Regions from separate parts of the Homo sapiens genome. Here region 1 is linked to region 2. The links come from fine-mapping of genetic effects on gene expression. Tissue or cell type: whole blood. Region 2 holds a variant in brackets; the other region holds the start of a gene. All regions are shown on one strand. Distances are from middle to middle.

Evidence for each region. PIP is the estimated chance that this variant, and not a neighbour inherited with it, causes the effect.
Region 1: it holds the start of PGM1, and the variant in region 2 is fine-mapped to the expression of PGM1 in whole blood (INTERVAL, PIP 0.98).

What each region holds. Positions count from the first base shown.
Region 1 is chr1:63,590,782-63,595,781 of GRCh38, forward strand. It overlaps PGM1 (phosphoglucomutase 1), which reads left to right and starts at 2,630. Exons shown (of 11, transcript NM_002633.3): 1 at 2,630-2,953. The coding sequence starts at 2,708. RefSeq lists enhancers at 2,617-2,906, 3,607-3,666 and a silencer at 2,947-3,246.
Region 2 is chr1:63,656,212-63,664,102 of GRCh38, forward strand. PGM1 (phosphoglucomutase 1) reads left to right here. Exons shown (of 11, transcript NM_002633.3): 11 at 3,375-4,034. The coding sequence ends at 3,464. Among named protein-coding and RNA genes, the nearest start is that of PGM1, 67 kb to the left of the region's middle. The variant T/C (reference allele first, on the strand shown) is at 3,870.

The DNA.
Region 1 (5,000 bases), 67 kb before region 2:
GAATTTAATGAAGGTCAAAATACTTTCTCCTTGATGTTTATAAGCTGTTATATATCCGTGATTACCAGGATTGAACCTGGCCAAACCTTTTGATCTATAGAATTGGGACTTCTTATCTATAGAATTGTGACATCATAAATGGGTGTTGTTTTCAGCTGTTGAGTTTGTGGTAATTTGTCATACAGCAGTAGAAAAGTACGGGTTGAGTATCCCAAATCCAAAAATCCCAAACCCAAAATGCTCCAAAATCCAAAACTTTTTGAGTGCCAACATGACACTCAAAGGAAGTGCTCATTGGAACATTCTGAATTTGGGATTTTTGGATTTGGGATGCACAACCATTGTAATGCAAACATTCCAAAATCCGGAACAATCTAAAATCTGAAACATTTCTGGTACCAAACATTTCGGATAAGGGATACTCAATCTGTAATACAAGGGGATTGCATAAAGGCATGATTATCAGGAGGCAAGGAACATGGGGATCATGTTAGGTCTGTATAAGGGGCCACAGTAACCCTGTCCAGAACAGCAGAACTGCCAGTTAACTCATAGAATCATGAACTATAATCATGAATGGGGGTTGTCTTAAGCCACTCAGATTTAGACTGGTGTGTTATGCAGTTAAAGCTAATTGTTACAACTTCTGGGGTGAGAGAAGTATAGATCAATTCCTCTTAAATGAAAAGCTCCATCATATTTCCAAAGATACTGAAGAATATAGAAAGGGCATGAGATCTGAATTTGGGCCCGTGACTTTACAAGTTATCATTTATTGATGACTTACTTATTAGCACTGTGGTAGGAGCTGTATATTCTCTATCTAAACCATACAACTCTAAGGTAGGTATTTTGAAGGCTCAGTGAATCTATGCTATATTTTCATTTTGTGGAGTTAGATAACCTTGATTACATTCACCATCCAATCCTCAATTCTCTCGTCTATAAAATGGGCTTGATTATATTATTTAATTCACAAGATTACACTGCTCTGTAAACTCCTGTGCAAATATTAGAACTCATTACTAGCAGTCCAGGGTTCCGTTTTCACATAATATTTGCCACCGAAACTCATCTATAGTGACTACATCAACACACTGTATCTACATAGCATGTACTATATGAGCATGTATATCAACACTTGGTTTGTGAGAGTCTGCACTCTTATGGGTCTGTTCGCCTCCCTGCTTGATCAAGACATACCAATTAACTACCAAAAGAATATAATTCACAGGTGAATGATATGCTCTGGTTTTGGAATTGGGGAAGGGGAGCTAATATTTTTGAAGGCCTCTATGTTTCAGGCACCAGGCTAGATGATTTACTTCTAACAGCTGATTATGATTGAATTTGTTTGGACTGGGTCATTTAGAAACCACCTCAAGTAATTCTACTGTGAGCATGGGTCACAGTAGGATTCTACTGTGTATCCATGACTGAGAATTTCTGACATACAAAACCCCATTAAATCTTGCAAAAATATTCCAAAGTAGGTGATATGTTTATTTTACAGTAAGGAAATTGATGCCCACGGACATTAACTAACTTTCCCAAGAGCACACACCTTGTAAAGCCAAGTTTTTTGCCACTTTACCAAAATGACAGGTTTCTTGAACAGAGGAGACAATCACTCTCATCAAATTAAGGGAGATACTAAACCGAAAAGCAAGAAAGACTGAAGATTCCTACTTAATAATCAAATCCCCTTGGTTGACCTTGCTATCCCCCGTGAAACTTTTCCAGCCATGTCAGTCCTTGTTTGTTGATCTCCTCACTTTATTTCTATTACATGAGTAACTGGCTAATTTTGATGGTGTTCATACTTATCCTTACCATATATTTGCTCCTACATTTGTCAAGTCCTGCTTGTACATTTCCTAGTTGCCAACCTGGTGTCACAGCGGGCAAATCATGGGAAGAGCCCTGGTTTTGGAGCCAGACCACCTGAATTGGCCTCCCGCATGGACTTAGCTGTGTGGCAATGAGACAAGGCATTTTATTCTTTGAATTTCAGTTTTGTAAGCATAAAAAGGGGAAAAATAAAACCCAGAGTTTAGTAAGGTTTAGAAACGCTACACTCAGCAAGTCATAGCTAAGTCACCGTCACCAATGGTAGTCAAGTGTGTGGTGCAGCAGGAAACATTTGGAGTCGACTCCTTTACGGAACTCAAATGCCCTCACATTTAGGGAGAAATAGAAAGAATTACGACTCATGAAATCGAGCTGGGGCTGGCACTTCTGACCCTCCCAACAGGTTTCCAGAAAGCTATTTACACACGATGCATTCGCCAAACCACTGGAAATCATTCTACCCTGTACTTTTTTCCACCCTGCCTCACGTCCTTGCCCTATGACCGGGTTCCTACCCCAACCTCTGCCCCAACACTTAGAGGAGGAGTTGCGGGCCTCTTTTTACAGTGGATAGGATTCCGAAGGGGAGAGTAAATCAGTAAGGCTCCACCCATTTCACAGGAGGCCTAGAGACCGGCGCTCCCCTTTCCCCTCCCGCCGGACCTGCCAGGAGGTGGGCTGGCGCGGAGGGAGGGCCCTGTCCCCTGTCCCTTTAAGGAGGAGGGCCAAACGCCGGCCTAGAGTGCGGCGTAGCCCCCACCCGCCGTGCCCTCACCCCAGAGCAGCTGCAGCCTCAGCCGGCCGCCCCTCCGCCAGCCAAGTCCGCCGCTCTGACCCCCGGCAGCAAGTCGCCACCATGGTGAAGATCGTGACAGTTAAGACCCAGGCGTACCAGGACCAGAAGCCGGGCACGAGCGGGCTGCGGAAGCGGGTGAAGGTGTTCCAGAGCAGCGCCAACTACGCGGAGAACTTCATCCAGAGTATCATCTCCACCGTGGAGCCGGCGCAGCGGCAGGAGGCCACGCTGGTGGTGGGCGGGGACGGCCGGTTCTACATGAAGGAGGCCATCCAGCTCATCGCTCGCATCGCTGCCGCCAACGGGGTAAGGGATGCGCGGCCCCGCGCCGCTGTGCACCCTGGCGCGTGTGCGACGTGCGGCCCGCGGCGCCCTCCCTCGCTCGGGGCCGGCCGCTTCCGCGCGCTGCCGCCTCGGTTTCCACCTCCCGCTCCTCCCTCTCCTTCGCGCTCGCTCTTCTGGCCTGGAGGCCCGACGGAGGTCGCCGGGCTGGGGAAAGTGGCCACGGGACCCGGCAGACCTGCTCGCCTGACTCCCGGGGCGCCGGGAGGTGCGGGCGCGGAGCCTCCCAAGGTCACGCCCGACTCTCCGTCTCTAGCCGCTGCCTTCCCTCTCCCCGTCCCCCGCCCCTCCCGAGGCGTCTGACATTTGCCCTAACCTTGCAGCCTTGGAAGATACGATTACGGCGCAGAGTGCTGTCGCCTTAAGCAGGAAAGGTTAGACTGCCGCCGCCTCGCCCAGAGCCCCCTCGCATCCCGCCCGCTCCTCTGCTATTCTCGGCTAGGACTGGCGCTTCCCGCTGGCTCGGAGCCCGACACTGTGGGGCAAGGGTGGCGAGAGCACCCATCCCCCTGGGGCGTCAGGTTGGCAGATCTCAGCAGGCGGGTGCCAATCTTTTCTCCCCGCCCCCTAGTTTGCCTTGGTTCCGAACTCCTGCCCTTTGCGCGGCCTGCTTGCTGGGGGGCAGGCGTTTGAAACATCTAGTCTCTGCCCAGTGGTGCCCGGGATCTGTTCCACCGACGGGGCTGGAGCTGAATTTTCATTAGAATGGCAACATACCCAAAGACGCCCTTACGCAAGCAAGCAGTCGTGGCAGGCCAGGAAATTACCGCAACACCTTGGTTCCGCCCCCGGCCAAGGAAAGTTAACTGACTTGATTGGGCGGGTCCACTCGGATAGGGGAAATTAAAAAAAAAAAGTTTTTCAGTAAATCTGATATATGGAAATGTGGGGCCGGGCATGGTGGCTCACGCCTGTAATCCCAGCACTTTGGGAGGCTGAGGGTGGTGGATCACCTGAGGTCAGGAGATCGAGACCATTCTGGCTAACACGGTGAAACCACGTCTCTACTAAAAAATACAAAAAAAAAAAAAAAAAAAAAAATTAGCCAGGCGTGGTGGCGGGCGCCTGTAGTCTCAGCTACTCGGGAGGCTGAGGCAGGAGAATGGCGTGAACCCGGGAGGCGGAGCTTGCAGTGAGCTGAGATCCCGCCACTGCACTCTAGCCTCGGCGACAGAGCGAGACTCCGTCTCAAAAAAAAAAAAAAAGAAAAAAAAAGTGGATTGATAAGTTGGGGCTAATTATTCACTTACTTTTGTAAAACATTTCTAAGGAGTTCTGAGGACCAAGTTTTCTTTCTATATTTTAAGTGAGATTTGACTTATGCCCAATTCTTCTGGAACGCATCCCCTGAAATGGATATTTTTATTCATTTTAATAGTACTTTATTTATCTTATTTTGTTGACATTGAGTACTATTTGCCAAGCACTATGGTAAGCGCTTCATTTCTGGGTCTCATTTATCCTCCTGCAGCCCTATAAGGTAGATGCTATTATGGGTATCTTCAAGTTGCCAACGAGGACGCTGAAGCTTAGGTAGGTTAAATAATTTACAAAAACTATAATGGCAGCACTAAGAGTCCAATATAGATCTGCCAATCCCAAGAACTTGAACAGCTCCTGAGAATGAAGAATGAACAGCCCTTGATCTTGAAGATCTGTTTTCCAGGCTCCAAAATCTAAACTGGGCTCTATCTACATCTGCCTTCCTGGGCCAAACATTTATAAGCATCAGTGAGAGAAGATTGCCTGGATTTGTTTACTTTGTGGTCCTGAATTTTCAGACAAGCGCAAATTCCCATGAAAGAAGAACAGACAATAGCTGTATCCCAGTAGATCATTTCCCTGTTACCACCTGTGCTGAATTTGCATTTCATTCATTCATTCATTTATTCAGTCAGTCATTCAACAGATCCTGTTGAATACCATGTTCAGAGAAATGTGTGGACTAAAAGGATGATGCAGACCCAAGAGTTGTCCTTAAGGAGCTTACAGCAGAGTGGGAATTTTAGGT
Region 2 (7,891 bases):
ATCAAAACCACAATGAGCTGTCACCTCACACCTGTTAGGATGGCTGTTCTCAAAAAGACAAAAGATAACAAGTGTTGGGAAGGATGTGGAGAAAAGGGAACCATCAGACACTATTGGTGGGAATATAAATTGGTATAGCTATTTTGGAATAACCAAAATATGGAGGTTCCTCAAAAAGTTAAAAATATTTTAGTACTAATATACGATCCAGTAATCCCTCTTCTGGGTATATATTCAGAGGAACTGAAATAAATATGTCAAAGAGATATCTGTTCTCTCTTGTTCATTCAATATTATTCACAATAGTCAAGATATGGAACCAGCCTAAGTGCCCATCTACAGATGAATGAAGACATTGTGGTGTGTGTGTGTGTGTGTGTGTGTGTGTGTGTGTGTATACCACAATGGAAAATTATTCTGCCTTAAAACAACAAAAACCAAAATCTTGCCAATCTTGCCATTTGCAATAACATGGATGAACCTGGAGGACATTATGCTAAGTGAAATAAGCCAGACACAGAAAGGCAAATACTGCATGATTTCACTTGTATGTGGGATCTAAAAAAAGTGAATCTCATAGAAACAGAGCAGAAAGGGGCTTACTAGGGGGTAGTGAATGGGGAAAATGGAGAGATATTGGTCCAAAGGGTACAAAATTTCAGTTATGTAGGATGTAGCAGTTCTAGAGATGGAATGTACAACATGATGGCTATAATGAATAACACTTGAAATGTACTAGGAGAATAGATCTTAATTGTTCTCACTATCACCACCACAACAAAAAAGGTAAGTAGGTGACAAGATTGATAATGTTAGTTGGCTTGACTCTAGTAATCAGTTCACTATGTATTTGTATATCAAGACATCATATTATATACCTTAAACATAAACAATTTTTATTAAAAAATTGAAAGTAAAATAAAATAAATAGCATTTGCCATGCTTATTTTTCCACAAAGGCTTTTTTCTTTTAACACCTAATTAAAATCCTGTGAAACTCATTTGGAAACCCCTGGCATAGTGGTTTTGAGCAAAGTTAAAGAGATCTTGTTTTAAATTCTATTCCTGCCACTTAATAACTGTGTGTCCCTGGGTAAGTTGTTACAATTTTATGAATCTTGGTTTCCTTGTCTGTCAAATGGCAGAGTAATACCTACTTCATCTAGTTGTTACCGGGGTTTAAGGAGATAATAAATGTAAAATGTTTAAACACTGTGGCTGGCATATAGGATTAACTTTTCAGAATAAGCAGCACTCTTAGTTTTTTTAGTCTAACTTTAAGTGTAACATAATGCTATTATAACCATTTTTAAGTATATAGTTTAGTAATGTTGTACATATTCATATTGTTGTCCAACGTATCTCTAAAACTTTTTTCCCCCAAAACTAAAACTCTGTACCCATTGAACAGCACCTCCCTGCTTCTCCCTTTTCACAATCCCTGGTACCACCTTTCTCCTTCCTGTGTCTGTGAATTTGACCATTGTAGGTACCTCACATGAGTAGTATAGTTGCTTTTATTACAGAAAGTGGGAGATGAGAGAATGCTTCACTTTTACATTTTTTCCAGTGGCCAGGCCCCAGTTTCAGTCATCACCAGTACCTTGTTGTGTTGTAGGCATCCCTAAAACTTCAACCAAAGGCAATGGGGTCTGCATTATAGACACTTAATAGCACAAGAGAAAAGGAAGAAGGAAATTGTGTTTGTCTTTTGATCATCAAGATAAATGCCTGGCACGTGGTAGATTCAAAGAGTGAATGAAATTTGTTTCCTCTGAACCATAGTCCTCAGCAGGTGGAATGGCAGTGGATGGTGTGAGGTTCCCACAATGCCCAGGTGTATCACCATCTAGCCGGGGAGCTGCCTTTCCTTATTCTGCAGCTGCTAGGCCATCAGCACTTTGTGGGGACTGCCCAAGCCCTAAGGGGAAATGTGGTAGTTTCAGCAGGTGGAGTTGATTCTCCTTTTCCAGGTATAATGGATCGGTGGAGATTTAGATAAGAAAAAGTAGCATTCAGCAGTAGAAAATGTACTACTCCTGGCTCTGCTATTGAGTCATTTAGTCAAATCACTTCATCTCTTTGGGTATCAGTTTTCTCATCTGTAAAATGGGCAGTTCAACCAGATTAGTAGTTTTTTTTTTTTTTTAATATTGAAAGCATTTATTAAGCAACAGAATTCTCTCTTTTTTTTTTTTTTCTTTAAGCGAGAAGTAGATGTGGGGAGGGGTTGTTGCATTTTTAAAGATTCCTGTATTAGGCCGGGTGCGGTGGCTCACGCCTGTAATCCCAACACTTTGGGAGGCCAAGGCAGGCAGATCACCTGAGGTCGGGAGTTCAAGACCAGCCTGACCAACATGGAGAAACCCCATCTCTACTAAAAATACAAAATTAGCCGGGCGTGGTGGCGCATGCCTGTAATCCCAGTCACTAGAGAGGCTGAGGCAGGAGAATTGCTTGAACCTGGGAGCCAGAGATTGTGGTGAGCCAAGATCGCAGCATTGCACTCCAGCCTGGGCAACAAGAGTGAAACTCCATCTCAAAAAAAAAAAAAAAAGATTCCTGTATTAGTCTGTTTTCACACTGCTGATAAAGACATACCTGAGACTGGGCAATTTACAAAAGAAAGAGGTTTAATTGGACTTACACTTCACGTGGCTGGGGAAGCCTCACAATCATGGTGGAAGGCAAGAAAGAGCAAGTCATGTCTTACATGAATGGCAGCAGGCAAAAGAGAGAAATTGTGCAGGGAAACTCCTGTTTTTAAAACCATTAGATCTCATGAGACCCATTCACTATCATGAGAACAGCACAGAAAAGACCCACCCCCATGATTCAATCATCTCCCACCGGGTCCCTCCCACAACACTTGGGAATTATGGGAGCTACAAGATGAGATTTGAGTGGGGACACAGAGCCAAACCACATCAGTCCCATTGGGAACAGTGTGGGAAAGAAATTGGAAGATGCACAAGTGGATGTGGAGGCACTCACTGCTCCAGGTAAGAGACAGGACATTGACTTAGCAAGACTTAACAGCAGGAGAGTGGAGAGAAAAGGGGGCCATGGAGAGAGATTTAGCGGGGAAAAGTCATTGAGGCCTGCTCATGGACTGGGCATGGGGAAAATGCAGAGGAAGATGTCAGGAGCAACTCCTAGTTGTTCACTTTACATGAAAGACTGTAGTGTTGATCCACTGAAATAGAAACTGCTGGAACTAGGTATTGGGGGAAATAACATGTGTTTGTTTTTGGATTTGTGGAGTTTGAGGAGCCTTGGAGACCTGGAAGTAGGCAGTCAGACGTACGGGTTTGGAGCTAAGCATCTGTGTTTAGAGGAAGTGATGGAAAAGCTTCTCTCTATGTCTTCCTCAGGTCATGTTGGCCCCCCTTATTTCCATTGCTCTGAAAGTGTCCCAGCTGCAGGAGAGGACGGGACGCACTGCACCCACTGTCATCACCTAAGAAGACAGGCCTGATGTGGTACGTCCCTCCACCCCCGGACCCATCCAAGTCATCTGATTGAAGAGCATGACAGAAACAAAATGTATTCACCAAGCATTTTAGGATTTGACTTTTTCACTAACCAGTTGACGAGCAGTGCATTTACAAGGCACTGCCAAACAAGATGCCCTTGGGAGCTGTGAGGGAAAGAGGACCTGCGGGCTTAGATCAATCTCAATTCCTTTTCATGCCCTCCTGCATTGCTGCTGCGTGGGTATTTGTCTCCTTAGCCATCAGGTACAGTTTACACTACAATGTAAGCTATAGGTGGAGCATCAGCAGTGAGTGAGGCCATTCTTCATCCTTAGGATGTGGCAATGAAATGATGGTGCAAGTTCCTTTCTCTTTTGTGAATCTTTCCCCCCA[T/C]TTCCTGTTTACATGTAACCCAACAAAATGCAATTTCTAGTGCCTTCTGTCCAATCAGTTCTTTCCTCTGAGTGAGACGTACTTGGCTACAGATTTCTGCCTTGTTTTGCGACATTGTCCCATTCACACAGATATTTTGGGATAATAAAGGAAAATAAGCTACAATTGCTTGTCGTCTTTTTTTCTTAACTGCAAAGTACTTTTTTGATTTTAGAAAGAAAAACAATTTTTTTTTTAGAAGGAGGGGAGTATTGTATTTTGTTTTCATGTCCTAGTCAGAAAATGAAATGGTCTCTAGGCTAGGTTGCAAATCCTTAGACTCAAGAACTGTAATTTTTTTTATTGTCCTGAATATTCTAAAAAGTAACATAAATTTTAAGAGAATTGTAATTTAAAATCTTAGCAGGGTCAACTGAGCTCTGGATTCTTCCAAGGTAGACAAATCAAGCTTGACATGGTTAACTTGGAACAAGGGAAAGGAAGAGTGATTTTCCTCTTCCTAGTGCTTAAATAGCAAAGCACTGGTACGTGCTCTGCAGTGCGGAGATGCCTTGACGCTTATTGAAGGGATGGAGGCAGAACCCTCAGAATCTGAGAGCAGGGTTACTGACATTTGGCCAAAAATCTGAGCCCACTGGCATCTTATTCAGCTCAGAACACTTATATTCCATCCATGAGTATATTATAGTTAAATAAGCGTAGACTTGAGAGCCAACAGACCCAAGTTTGAATCCCACTTGAGACCCTGAGTGACTTTTGAATATCATTACCCTATCCTTAAAGTGGGGATGAAAGTAGTTCTACCTTTATGAATTGTTGAGTACCTTAAGTGAGTACATTTGTGTAAAGCAGTGAGCACAGTATCTAGTGCATGGTACATTGTTAAATAAGTGAAAACTAGAATTATGTTTATGATACCATTTTTAGATTTTAAAGTACTGTATATACAGGAAAAACAAAAACTGTAACACTAATATTTGTAACACATTTTACATTTCCAAGGTACTTTCACAAAGTCACCTTGCCATATGGGCTATTCTAAAAAGTCAGCCCAGCTCTGTACCCCTCCCCTACTCAGTATGGACTCCCTGATACAGGTGGCAGGATCTTTATCTGGGGTAAGATTTCCATTGTTGCCAGCTCAGCAAACAAAACTATGCTTTGACAATGATGACAATGATGGTGGTGGTGGTGATGAGTTTGTCTGGAACGTTAACCCCTTGCCAGGCACTTTCCATATATTCTTTCTGAGCGCTTTCCATATATTCTTTAAATCTTCCTGACAACTCTGAGGTAGGTACTCTGAATATTCCCATTTTACAGATGAGGTTCAGTTACTCAACCAAGATCACACTGCTGGGGAGTGGTAGATGCTCCCAGACAGTGCAGCTCCAGCCCTACAGGGTTCAAACCACTTCAGATTTCTTCTACGGACTGTCTACTTCTAGGCTACACCTAACGTGGAAGAAAGGTGTGCAAATGCCCCTGTGCTTTACGCATTAAAGGGGGATACTGTGTGCTCTGGATGCCAAAGAATCTGTTATTTTGGCATTATATTAGCTCCTGCAGAGATCTGGATATCTGGATGTATCAGTCAGCCCGGAAATATGTATTGATCCACATTAAGTGTGAGGTGCTTGGGAGGAAGAGCTGTATAACACAGAGCCCATGCCATCAAGCTGCCTGTAAGACTTGCCAGGGGAATCGAATCTAGCACAAGTAGAAACTGTATGGGATAAATGTTATGAGTTGTGTAGGTAAAACCTACATATTCTCCAAGCACCTATTCTATCTCAGATGTTGGGCTAGATGCTTTCCAGTAACCCTCGAAGCAAGACATCATTCTTCTCGCTTTCCAGTTGAGGCAACTGAAGCTCAACAGAAGCTCATTAATTTGCCCCAGGTTCTCAGCTACCGTGTGATGGAACTGGAATTCTGACCCTAAGTATCGTTCATGTTTCCTGACCCTTTTCTGCCTCCTCATCTCTTGAATCAGCTGCGGATACTCCCAGTTCTGTGGCCCCTGGAATGGCTTCAAAAATTTCCTCCTCCCTGATCGTATTTCAACTGCTTTTCCTGCCTCCACTTGGCAACAGCTTGGAAGTTAAAAGCTCAGGGGAGGAAGAAGGAGGTGGCTGGAGCCATGGGGCAGTGGAGGTGGGTGTGGGTAGTAAGGATCACTGTGTCTCTCCAGGGCTTCCAAAGAGATGCCGCAGTGTGTGTGCCCCAGGGAGTGCGGGAGAGGAGTCCTGAGAGGCGGGCAGCAGCACCCAGCCAGGCTTCCCCGCCTTCCAGCGTTGATGTGGTCTGTGAGTCAGGCTTGTTTTCTTTGGGGTGTGGTGAGAATTACAGTGAGAAAATTGGGTTGGAACTGTTTGGGGCCCAATTCTGAAATTTCACTTTTTCTCTCCCTCTTGACATTCAGCTATTCTCTCAGAGAAGCAGTTTCCTGTTCAGCGATGTGCCCCAGGCCTACACAGTGGCCAGGCTTCCAGTGGCTGGGCTCTGCCTCATAGGGAGTGAAAGCAGAGGCCAAGCTCACTGTGGTTCTGGGGAGTGTCATCTCCTTGGCCCTTCAAGGCCAGGCTTGAGGACAGGGTCCCTCTGCCTCCTCTGCCATGCTGCTTTCTTCAACGTTTCTTGTTGACTCATTAGAAGCTGGCCTTGCTTATAAGAATTCTCCAGAAAACATATTACCATGAGTAAGAGGTGCCCCCCTTGTGTTTCTGCGTTCTGAACCCCCCCAGCAGAGGGGGTTGGATATGAGTATAACAGCCTTCATGCAGGACTCACTGCATGGCCTGTGGGCTTTGGCGGGGGCACCCCATGGCCTTCTGGCCTTCCCACTTGCCCCTTCTGATCCATTCTCCACACCACCAGCTAAGTACTCTTTCAAATGTTGAAGTGCAGAGGCCTTTGTGTAGCCTCCAGGTCCGTGTGACTCACCTGCCTGTCACTTCCCGCTCCTCTCCCCCTACTCACAGCCTTACATTCCAAGCTTCAGTCTTGGGGAACCATGGCACCTCCCTCCTGCCCCCAGGCCTTGGAAGCTGCTCTTCTTTCCACCTGAATCACCTTTACCCTCCATCCCACCCTCCACTACATTCTCCACCTTTCCCCTCCATTCCACCATCCGCCATATTCTCCCAACTCCTACTTGTTCCTCAGGTCTCAATTTAAACATCGTTTCCTCCAAGAAGTGCTTTCTGAGCCTCCAGTGTCTGGTTTGGGAGCTTTTTCTGGTGTTCCTATCACCTCTATTTCCCCCTTCGAGGCGCTTATCCCATTCTATGTTCATAACCTGTTTACTTTCCATTTCTTCTACTGCCCTGGGAACTCCTACATGGCAGAGACTGCCTTTTTCACCAGTGTTTACCCAGGATCTAGGCCTGTGTCTGGCACATAGCAAAAGCCCCATTAAATATTTTCAGAATGAGTGAATGAAATCTACTAGTTGCACGGCAGAATGTTTCATTATGCTGGAATCTCCCTGACCTATAAGGCAGGATTGTCTCAATTTTACAGGTGACAAGTGATTTGAGCAACTTCCATGCTAGTCACTGGTTAACCAAGAACTCTTTCAAAAAGTGTTAGAGGCTGCAAGTGAGAAAGCACCCAGGAGAGGCGGGCAGGAGGGTACTGGCAATAGATGGGAGTTATGTGTCATGGTCACTTTGAAGAAAATGTTTAATTTAAATGATAAAACACATTTTATCTCCCACTGCTACAAAATTAATTGGGAGGTATAGTTGGGGAAGAGTTCTACTGAATACAGAAATGAGTGCTTTAAGGAACAGAATCAATAAAACCAGCCTCAATCCCCAAAGCCCCCCTCTGAGCAGATTCACGGAAAGGAACCCATGATGGGTAAAGTGGGTACCCTGGCACTGGGCGTCATGCTGGCATGGGGATCCTCCTCTGAGCATCTATTTCTGGAAGTCTGAGAGGCTCTTCTCAGTTCCCATTATCAGAACAAGAAGCATTCCCACAAGTGTGTCATTATCCAAAACAAGTGAGGTCAC